Regions from separate parts of the Homo sapiens genome. Here region 1 is linked to region 2. Evidence: fine-mapped expression QTL. A gene starts in region 2. The other region holds a variant in brackets. All regions are shown on one strand. Distances are between the middles of the regions. Region 1 overlaps HDAC4 (histone deacetylase 4). Region 2 holds the start of HDAC4-AS2 (HDAC4 antisense RNA 2).

Evidence for each region. PIP is the estimated chance that this variant, and not a neighbour inherited with it, causes the effect.
Region 1: its variant is the best candidate, but not a certain one, in a credible set for the expression of HDAC4-AS2 in tibial nerve (GTEx, PIP 0.54).

The regions. Positions count from the first base shown.
Region 1 is chr2:239,121,216-239,125,604 of GRCh38, forward strand. The region is part of intron 12 of HDAC4 (histone deacetylase 4); the gene reads right to left. Among named protein-coding and RNA genes, the nearest start is that of MIR4441, 37 kb to the left of the region's middle. The variant C/T (reference allele first, on the strand shown) is at 1,776.
Region 2 is chr2:239,191,741-239,196,129 of GRCh38, forward strand. HDAC4-AS2 (HDAC4 antisense RNA 2) reads left to right here and starts at 1,905. Exons shown (of 2, transcript NR_198956.1): 1 at 1,905-2,436; 2 at 2,622-4,389. The region is part of intron 3 of HDAC4 (histone deacetylase 4); the gene reads right to left.

The DNA.
Region 1 (4,389 bases), 71 kb before region 2:
CAGAGTGCTGGGATTACAGGTGTGAGCCACCATGCCCAGCTTTAAATTTCAAACTTAAAGAAAAACTTCAAGAACTCTGTAAGAAAATCTCAAACGTCCTTCCCCTATGCACAGATGAATGGCGGTGGAGGTAGTGGGGGTCATAGCGGGGGTCAGCCTCTCTTCCTGGGGGGCTGTTTCAGGGGCCCCAAGGCCACTGCAACCTGCCTGCCTGAGGCTTTCGGCAGCCGCGTCTACCGTGCTGTGCATCAGGAGACCTCCCCACTGTTCCAAGGGCTCTTGGATGGCCCTTCCCCGGCTGGCTGCGGATGGCGTGTGCTGCCAGGGGCCGCATCTCTTTAGTGTCCTTTAGTGACAACATTCCCAGGTCTTTTTCCTCCCTTTCACGAGGATGAAGCCTCTGAAGTGTCCCCCGCTGCCGCACGCCCCTCGGCCTGGAGGAGGGATCATCTCCACACCGTGGGCCTCCGGCGAGGGCTCTCAGGCAGGGCCTGAGGAGGATGTCACTTTGGCAGTGGTGCCACGTCAGAGCCCTCTGTGACGCAGGCCAGGCCCCTTGCCTTGGCACTGACGCAGGCGCCTGTGGGTCACCTCCCTGGGCCATGGCTGCAAACAAAGCCTGCTTCTCTCTCTCTCTCTCCTTTGACATTCAGTTCTGAGTCTCACTGGCTGGGCTGTGGGCTGGGGCTGCACTGCAGAGCTGGCTTTGGGAGGTGAGCCGGACGCGGGCAAACAATTGAAGCAGCTCTGTGCAGCCCGAAGGCCTTGGGGACACTGAGAGCCCCTTTCATCAATTCAGGAAGAACAAATGCACCTCCATATTTGGAATAATTACATTTTTAAAAAGTCAGGCTGGAGTTCACGGCCAAAACCGAACTGGTAAACTGCCAGTATTTTAAAACAATCGGACACACTCGTAATTAGACCACCCAAAATATGAGTCCAAGTTTTCATATTCAAAACCGAGGATGTCAAGTTAAAGGGAAACACACCCGAGGCCCTCCGCTCTGCAGGAGGCAGGTTCTTGTGCAGAGTCCAGAAACCATGGGAAGAACCACCTTGAGAAGCAAGGCTTCTTGCTGTAGGGGTGGAGGACACCTTCCAACGAACGTCCTCTTTTAATAGAAAGAGGTATTTCGCCTGGACACACATCACCCACTGCTCGCAAACCAGACATAACTGAGGCCAAGTCCGGACGTGGCCAGCGAACACGGAGGGCCAGTTTCACCTGCAGAGTTCCAAGGTCCACTCGCCCTCTGATGGTGTGCGTTCTCCAGAAAGTTCCTTCATGCAGCAAACCCTTATAAACACCACTGCATACAAGGCACGGGCAACAGAAGCTGACACAGTTGGAAAACATCTGCCACCATCCCGACCACAGGCTGGGGAGAGGAGAGCAGAGCCAGCTCGGGGTCGATCCTGTCCACCTGGTGGAGTTTTCTCAGCCAAAAGGGGCAGCTCTGCAGGCTGCAGGCCTCGGGAAAACTAGAGTGGCTACATATGGCTGCAGGGAACACCAGGGCTAGGCACGGGCCGCCTCTCTTTCTTTTTTATTCACAGTGATGTTTCCAAAACAACTGCCCTCTAAGGTACAGGCTGAAGGAGGGGCAGACCAAGCCGGCCCCAGCTGCAACCCCAATGTAGGCTGGAGCAGCGCAGTGGGACAGGAGGGTTCACAGCTGCCAGAGCTGGGCAGATGCCCTCAGGGAACAAGCCCCTGGGGACGTCATCCTCCAAGAGGAAGGGCCGGGACGTCAGTGTTAGGCGGCCCTGGG[C/T]AAGATTCTTGTCTTCCTGGGCATCCTGGGAAAACACTGTCTAAACGTTTCAATCAACTGTCATTCACTCCCGTAAATCAATCAGAGAACAAACTCCAGTGAGAGTACCCGGTTTCTAAATCCTTCAAGAGTATACGGCATGTGAATAGGTGTTTCCTGTCTTCCTCAAACCTCCTACCCCATCACTCAGATAATGACATAATAAAATTAACAAACCTAAGTTGGCATTAGGAAGACGGATGTGAAAGTGCTTTTGACACCTGGGAGTAAAGATGCCTGGCAGGCGCCCGACACGCCCACAGCCTGTGCCCTTCCCGTCCCAATGAGGGGATTTGCTGGGTGCCCCATCCATTTCTGATGCGTTCCCTGCTGTCCGCTGATGAGGGCTTGGGGGTGGAGGGGCATGTGGGGTGGGGGTGGTGAGCCTATTTTGTGGTGTCCAGTGGGCAGCAGGGGCCAGGCTGTGGCCTGTGCTGGGCATCTGGTCTGACGTGGCTGCCACCCTGGAGCAAGGCCCCAAGGGGCCCATCTCCTCAATCCTGAGCCTGCAGCCCCATGATGGCTCACACACTAGGATGGATTTGGGCCACAGCCGGCTGCCATCTCCCAGGGGCCTTCCCCGACTCAGCCCCACTGGACCGGACACCACGCAATCAAAGCCTTTGACCACTGCGCCAGGGCTGAGCTGACTCCTCTTCTGGGCTGGAACTGTGGGGCTTGAGAGAAGGAAATTGGGACCAGGCAGGCAGGAGGGGCTAATGGTATCAGGAGGTCAGGGCTGCGGGAAGAGGCAGCAGTGTTGGTGGTGTAGGGGTCTCTCCCCACGGCTTTACCTCTGCTCTTGCTGGGATCCTGGTATTTCACTTTCCAACTCCTGTCTACGTGTGCTAGGAAAGTCTATCTCCTCCCCAGTCCTAACCCCAATTTTTCACCCTCAGGAAAACCACAGAAGACCCTGAGCCTCCGGACAGGTGGACAACCCAGGACCGGTCCTGAAATCCAGGGAAGCAACGGGGGTGGGGTGGAGTGAGGGGGGCACTTTCACAGGAGAGACAATAAACGGAGAAATGATTCCGTCTGTCGCCAAATCTGCCAAAGGTTTCTCCACGTTCCCCTCCCATCAACTCATCCTCTTTCTTCCTTGTAACAGCTTTACTGGGATATAATTCACATACCATCCAATTCACGCTTTTAAATGATATCATTTGTTGTTTTTAGTATATTTACAGAGCTGTGCAGTCATCACCATATCTAATTTTGGAATATTTTCACCATCCCTAAGAAGAGGCGCTGTTCCCCAGAAATGCTCCCCATCTGCCCGCAGCAGCCCAGGCCTGGCTCCCACGAGTCTGTGTCCTGTCTCTGTGAGTCTGTCTGTTGGGGACGTTTTATGTGCATGAAATCATACCACACGCGGCCTCTCGTGCCTGGCATCCTGCTTCCAAGGCTTCCCGTGCTGCCGCTTGTCAGTGTCATTCCACTTTATGGCTGAATGACATTCCGGCGTGTGGCCACGTTATATGACATTCCGGCGTGCCGGCGTGTGGCCGTGCGTCATTCCACGTTATATGACATTCCAGTGTGCCGGCATGTGGCCGCACGTCATTCCACGTTATATGACATTCCGGCGTGCCGGCATGTGGCCGCACATCATTCCACGTTATATGACATTCCGGTGTGCCGGCGTGTGGCCGCGTTATATGACATTCCATGTTATGTGACATTCTGGTGTGCTGGCGTGTGGCTGCGTTATATGACATTCCATGTTATGTGACATTCTGGTGTGCTGGCGTGTGGCCGCGTTATATGACATTCCACGTTATGTGACATTCCGGTGTGCTGGCGTGCGGCCGCGTTATATGACATTCTGGTGTGCTGGCGTGTGGCCGCGTTATATGACATTCCATGTTATGTGACATTCCGGTGTGCTGGCGTGTGGCTGCGTTATATGACATTCCACGTTATGTGACATTCTGGTGTGCTGGCGTGTGGCCGCGTTATATGACATTCCATGTTATGTGACATTCCGGTGTGCCGGCGTGTGGCCGCGCATCACAGGATGGACACCTGGGCTGTTCCCATGTAATGTGGCTATCACGACTGATACGGTTATTACGACTGATACGGTTTGGATCTGTGTCCCTGCCCACATCTCCTGCTGAAGCCTAGCCCCCAATACTGGAGGTGGGACCTGGCAGGAGGTGGCTGGATCATGTGGGTGGATTTGGCATGAACGGCTGAACACCGTCTGTTGGTGCTGTCCTCACTGTAATGAGTGGGTTCTGGTGAGGTCTGGTCGGTTAGAAGTGTGTGGCCCCTCTCCCCACCCCTTGCTCCTGCTCTTGCCAAGTGATGTGCCCGCTCCCCCTTCGCCTACCACAGTTGAATGTTTCCTCGAGGACTCCCCAGAAGCAGAGGCCAACACCACGCTTCCTCTACAGCCTGCAGAACCAGAAGCCAATCAGACCTCTTTTCTTATGAATCACGCAGTCTGAGGTATTTCTCTACAGCAGTGCAGGAATGGCCTGAAACAGGGACTCAGGTTGCTGTGAATGCCTGAGTGAGTTTACGTGTAGATGTGTGCTTTCATCTCTGGCCGCAGAGCTGTGGGGCC
Region 2 (4,389 bases):
GCAGTCAATCATGCTCCTAACCTGGCCCTGCTGGCTGCCCTGGCTGGACTGGCTTGAACCTGAGGAGTGCCCAGGCCTCAGGCCACGAAGACCAGCTCAGGCCACTTTCCTGGACAGTGAAAAGACACAAAGCAACCCAGAAGGTGACAGAAGCTTCTGAATATATCTGATCACATTCCACAGCGCAGCACGGGCTGCCTCGTTGTTATTGTTGTTTTTTAAATGAAATCCTCCTCTCTGACTGTTTCTGTTTCTTTCCCCAAATCAGTGAAGTGCAACCCCCAACTTTTAAAATGCATGTATTTAGTTTTTAATTGGGTGTCGACTTTGACACAGTAAAAGGTTTTCATTTGCTATTATGTGAGAAGAATCTACGCACATAAACTGCGTGTTCAATGTGCGGAAGCAGGGAGTAGGGGTCCGCCCACCCCCCACCCCGCACATGGGTGAGGACTGTTCCATGTGCAGGAGCAGAAAGCAGGGGTCCACCCACCCCCCACCCCACACATAGGTGAGGACTGTTCCATGTGCAGGAGCAGAAAGCAGGGGTCCACCCACTCCCCCACCCCATATGTGGGTGAGGACTGGACCCTATTCATTTCCTTTCTTCCCTTTTCTGATCATTTTTATGACAAAATATAGCAAAATGGAAAAACTGCGTAAGCAATGCTGGTTTTATGAAACATCAGCGTTCACCTACATTTGCTTCAGACTTTCTTTTAAGGAATAAAATATATGAAAGGCAGGGAGGAGAGCTAAGTCAGCAAACTCGCAAACTCGGAGAAAAGAGAACGGGGCCTGGCTTCTTGAAGAAGACTCAGCTGGCGGGCTCCCTGCTGTGGGCACTGGGGGCTACGGGTCCGGCTCTCACAAGCACGGCGGTGCTAAATGCTTTCCTGAACACACAGTCTCGTGAATGACTGTCAGGTTGCGGTTCCCTCTTCCGCGTTCATGGCTGTGATTGGCACGCGGTTCTCCTGGGACCAGTGCCCTGCAGTGACTTCCTAGAGTGCCTCAGGTGAGCGGGCCCGTGCTTTCCAGGGATAAACACAACTTTGTTCTTCTAAGTTACACAGTCAGCACCCATGGGTGAACCCATCGGGGAAGGCATACACTTGTATAATGTAGAAGAACAAAGTTGCATTTATCTCCAGGAAGGGATAAAGTTAGAAAAACAAAATAGCATCAACAACGACCATGTTATTTAGAATGCTGGTGTCTATATTTGTAGGTGAAACTGGTCTCTCTCATATTCTTTCTGTTTGGTCAAACAGAGACATTTTAGCTTGAACAAATAAGCACAGGGAATAAGTAACTGCACAGCGTTGCATCTTGGAAGCTGGGTTATTGCCTACGTCTCGCCTCATTTATCCCTGTGTGGGGGGCCTGGGTGGGACCCCTGCTTATAAGATGTGCTGCTGTCACCCAAGGTCCCATGTAGAAACAGGGTCCCACCACAGGCGCTGGGCAGAGGCCTGACCCGCTGCTGGCTTTAGCGCATCCCCCTCCATTTCTAATTTCTCACAGATGGAGGGAGGGGGCAGCATTGTAAACGTCTGGTGTTAATCTCTTTAAAAACCGAACATAAAACAACTTTTAAGGGATTTTTTTTATTAACTTCAAAAACATGACATGCCCGCATTTCCACTCCTCATTCAGTTCCCAAAGAACATTCATGGCTCCTGCTGTGTGCCAGGTGCTGTGGGAACGGGCCCAGGGCAGCCGCTGGGGCGCCGAGGAGCACAGGAGCTGATGGCAGGCCCAGGGGAAGGGCCCACAGTGGGCTGCGTCTCACCGAGGGCAGGGGCTGCCTGAGCAAGGACCCAGAGGTCTGGGTGCAGGTGGAGGGTCATGGGGACGGGGGAGCCCAGAGACCAGCCTGCCATCTGCAATCCTAGAGTGTCACTCAGGCTTGGGGCCGGGAGAGCAGCCAAGAGCGCGAGGGGAAGCAGCAGCAACTCTGGTGCTGGGGAGGACCCAGCTTCTCAGGACAAAGTGGGGAAGGCGGGGCAGGCTCTGCACACCCAAGGTTGGCTGGCCGAGTGGAATTTTCTTTCTTCAAACTTTTCTCAGATTCCCCTGAATCTGGAATCACAGGACATCTTAAAAGGAAACCCAAGTTCATGTTTGCTCCAAAGCATCTAATAGAGATGACACTAACATGATCTTGATGCAAATGCCACCGAAGCTATTTCATCAGGGTCAGAGGCAAAATTCAGTGTACTGAAATTCCCATCACAACGCAGGCACCTGGCCAGATCTGAGCCCGGGGTGGTCAATGCTGATGTGGGCCAAGGGCCCCCACCACCTGGGAGTTTTCAGAAATGGAAAATGATCACAAGGTTCCTCACAGGGATGCCGGCCAGCATTCATCATTGAGCGTGGAGGAGATGCGCTCACTTGGATGCCAAGGAGGACAGGCAGCGCCCTCTGAAGGTAAGAATTGCTCCCTGGATGTAGCCTCATCTGGATAACCTACACAACTCATCTTTCCATCCAGTCTACTCAAGAGCTATTAATGCTTTAATTCCTAAGGCATTCATTCTTTAATCTGTTCCTTAAGCTGTTTTCTTGGAGATTTGTACAAGTTCTGCAAATTAATTCAAATTTCATCTTAAAAGGAATTTGTCAACTGGACTGAGAGACAATCAAAACAGTCAGACACGGAACATGCTGAGCGCCACGCTGCTGCCGGGGAATTCTCTTCTGAAGCTTGGGTGACGCTCCTGCCCGCCTCACAGGCACACAGCTGAACCTCCTGTGCGTGCATCACCTGAACGGTCACAGCTCGACCCAAGTCTGCTCTTAAATTCCACCACCTGTGAAACAGCCAGCGAGCAGCCTGGCCCAGCACTCCCCACTCCCAAAAGACAGGACCCTATGGGGGAAGAAACTGCTGCCCAAATCTTCTGAATGTCGCTTACAAACTCCTTTTTCTGCTAAAACCTTCCATTCTGTGACAGCACAGAGAGGATGATGCAGACTGCAGCTGGGAAGCTGCTTCCTACTCCTCCAGGCCCCTGCTGGGTCACCCTAGAGCTGCCAAGGCCAGCAACTGAGGAGGAGGAGGGCAGGCAGGCAGGGCTCCTTCCAGCCACTCCAGCTTCTCCAGCAGTTTAGCGCATGCTGGAAGGTGCTGGCGCTGATCCGCCCCTGGCAGTGCTGGTGAGAGAGGCAAGTTACTCCTCGCAGATCTGTGTCTCCAGCTCGGTGCGCGTCTCCCTACGGACATGGAAGAGTGCGGGTCCCCTGAGGAGCAGGGAGGCGAGGGGCCCTGCAGAGCAGCCACCTTCTGCTGAGAAGGAGCCTGGACTCACTGGCACAGTGCAGCCAGAGGGGGCTTCGGTGGGCACCGAGGCTGGGGAGTCGGGCTCACCAATGCGCAGAATGCTGTCGCTGTTCTCACTACGGCACCTCCTGCATTTTCACTCATTGTGGGGAAGGGATGTTCACACTGCCTTGGTTTACCGGACTGCCACGTGAAACTCCACTATCTGCTAAAGTAAGCTAAGAGCAGAGCAGAGAAAATCAACAGCAGCACACGCCGCCTGCATCCCATGCGCACCTCCGGCCACGGCCATTGCTCACCTCTGAAGACAATGCTGCATTTATGTTGGATTCAATAACACAAATGGAGCGTTCACAGGGCAAGGAGACCCACCCCAGGGCTCCTGAGGGCTTCCTAATGAGGATCCTGGGAGCCGGGTGGGTGGGGATGAGGCCCAAGCTGTCCCAGGCCCGGCCCCACACACCAGCTGCAGAGATGAGAACCACAATCGCATTCACGCATTCGTGCGCCTACGGCTGTGTCAGACGTGACTTGTGCTATTTCTGTATCAAAAACCATTCAAAATGCCACGAGTTCCCAACAGAAGCTGCTAGTGCTTTTGACCCAAAGCACCCTGAAGAAAACAATAAAACCTTCTCTCCTTAAAGAATGCAGCATCAAAACAAAAAAGTCTGTATTCTCATGAATATTCTACGGTACAGCAGAAAACGGCTTTTATAGGTTGTGCCTTGAGAAACATATTAAGACAATCAGACTCCTGACGTCAGTGAGAGCACAAAGGCCGCATTCAGAGTCCAATGGGAGACGGTCAGTGTGCTGTGAATGAATTCTCAATCACAAACAGAAAAACCTGTTAGTCTCTCTCTCTCGCTCTTTTAAAATAAATGTTCATAAAGAAGCATACTGATTTTCCACGACATGCTTAGGTCCTCTTCTCAGGACGCGATTTCATGCCATCATACAGATATGGAAGAAAAAGAGGCACTATTCTTTAGGTAACACAGTCAATGTTTAGGGTCTCTTCAAGTAAAGAATGACTCATTCAAATCAAGGGAAAAATAATAGATATTTCAACTATGTAACCATGATTTCCTCTTACA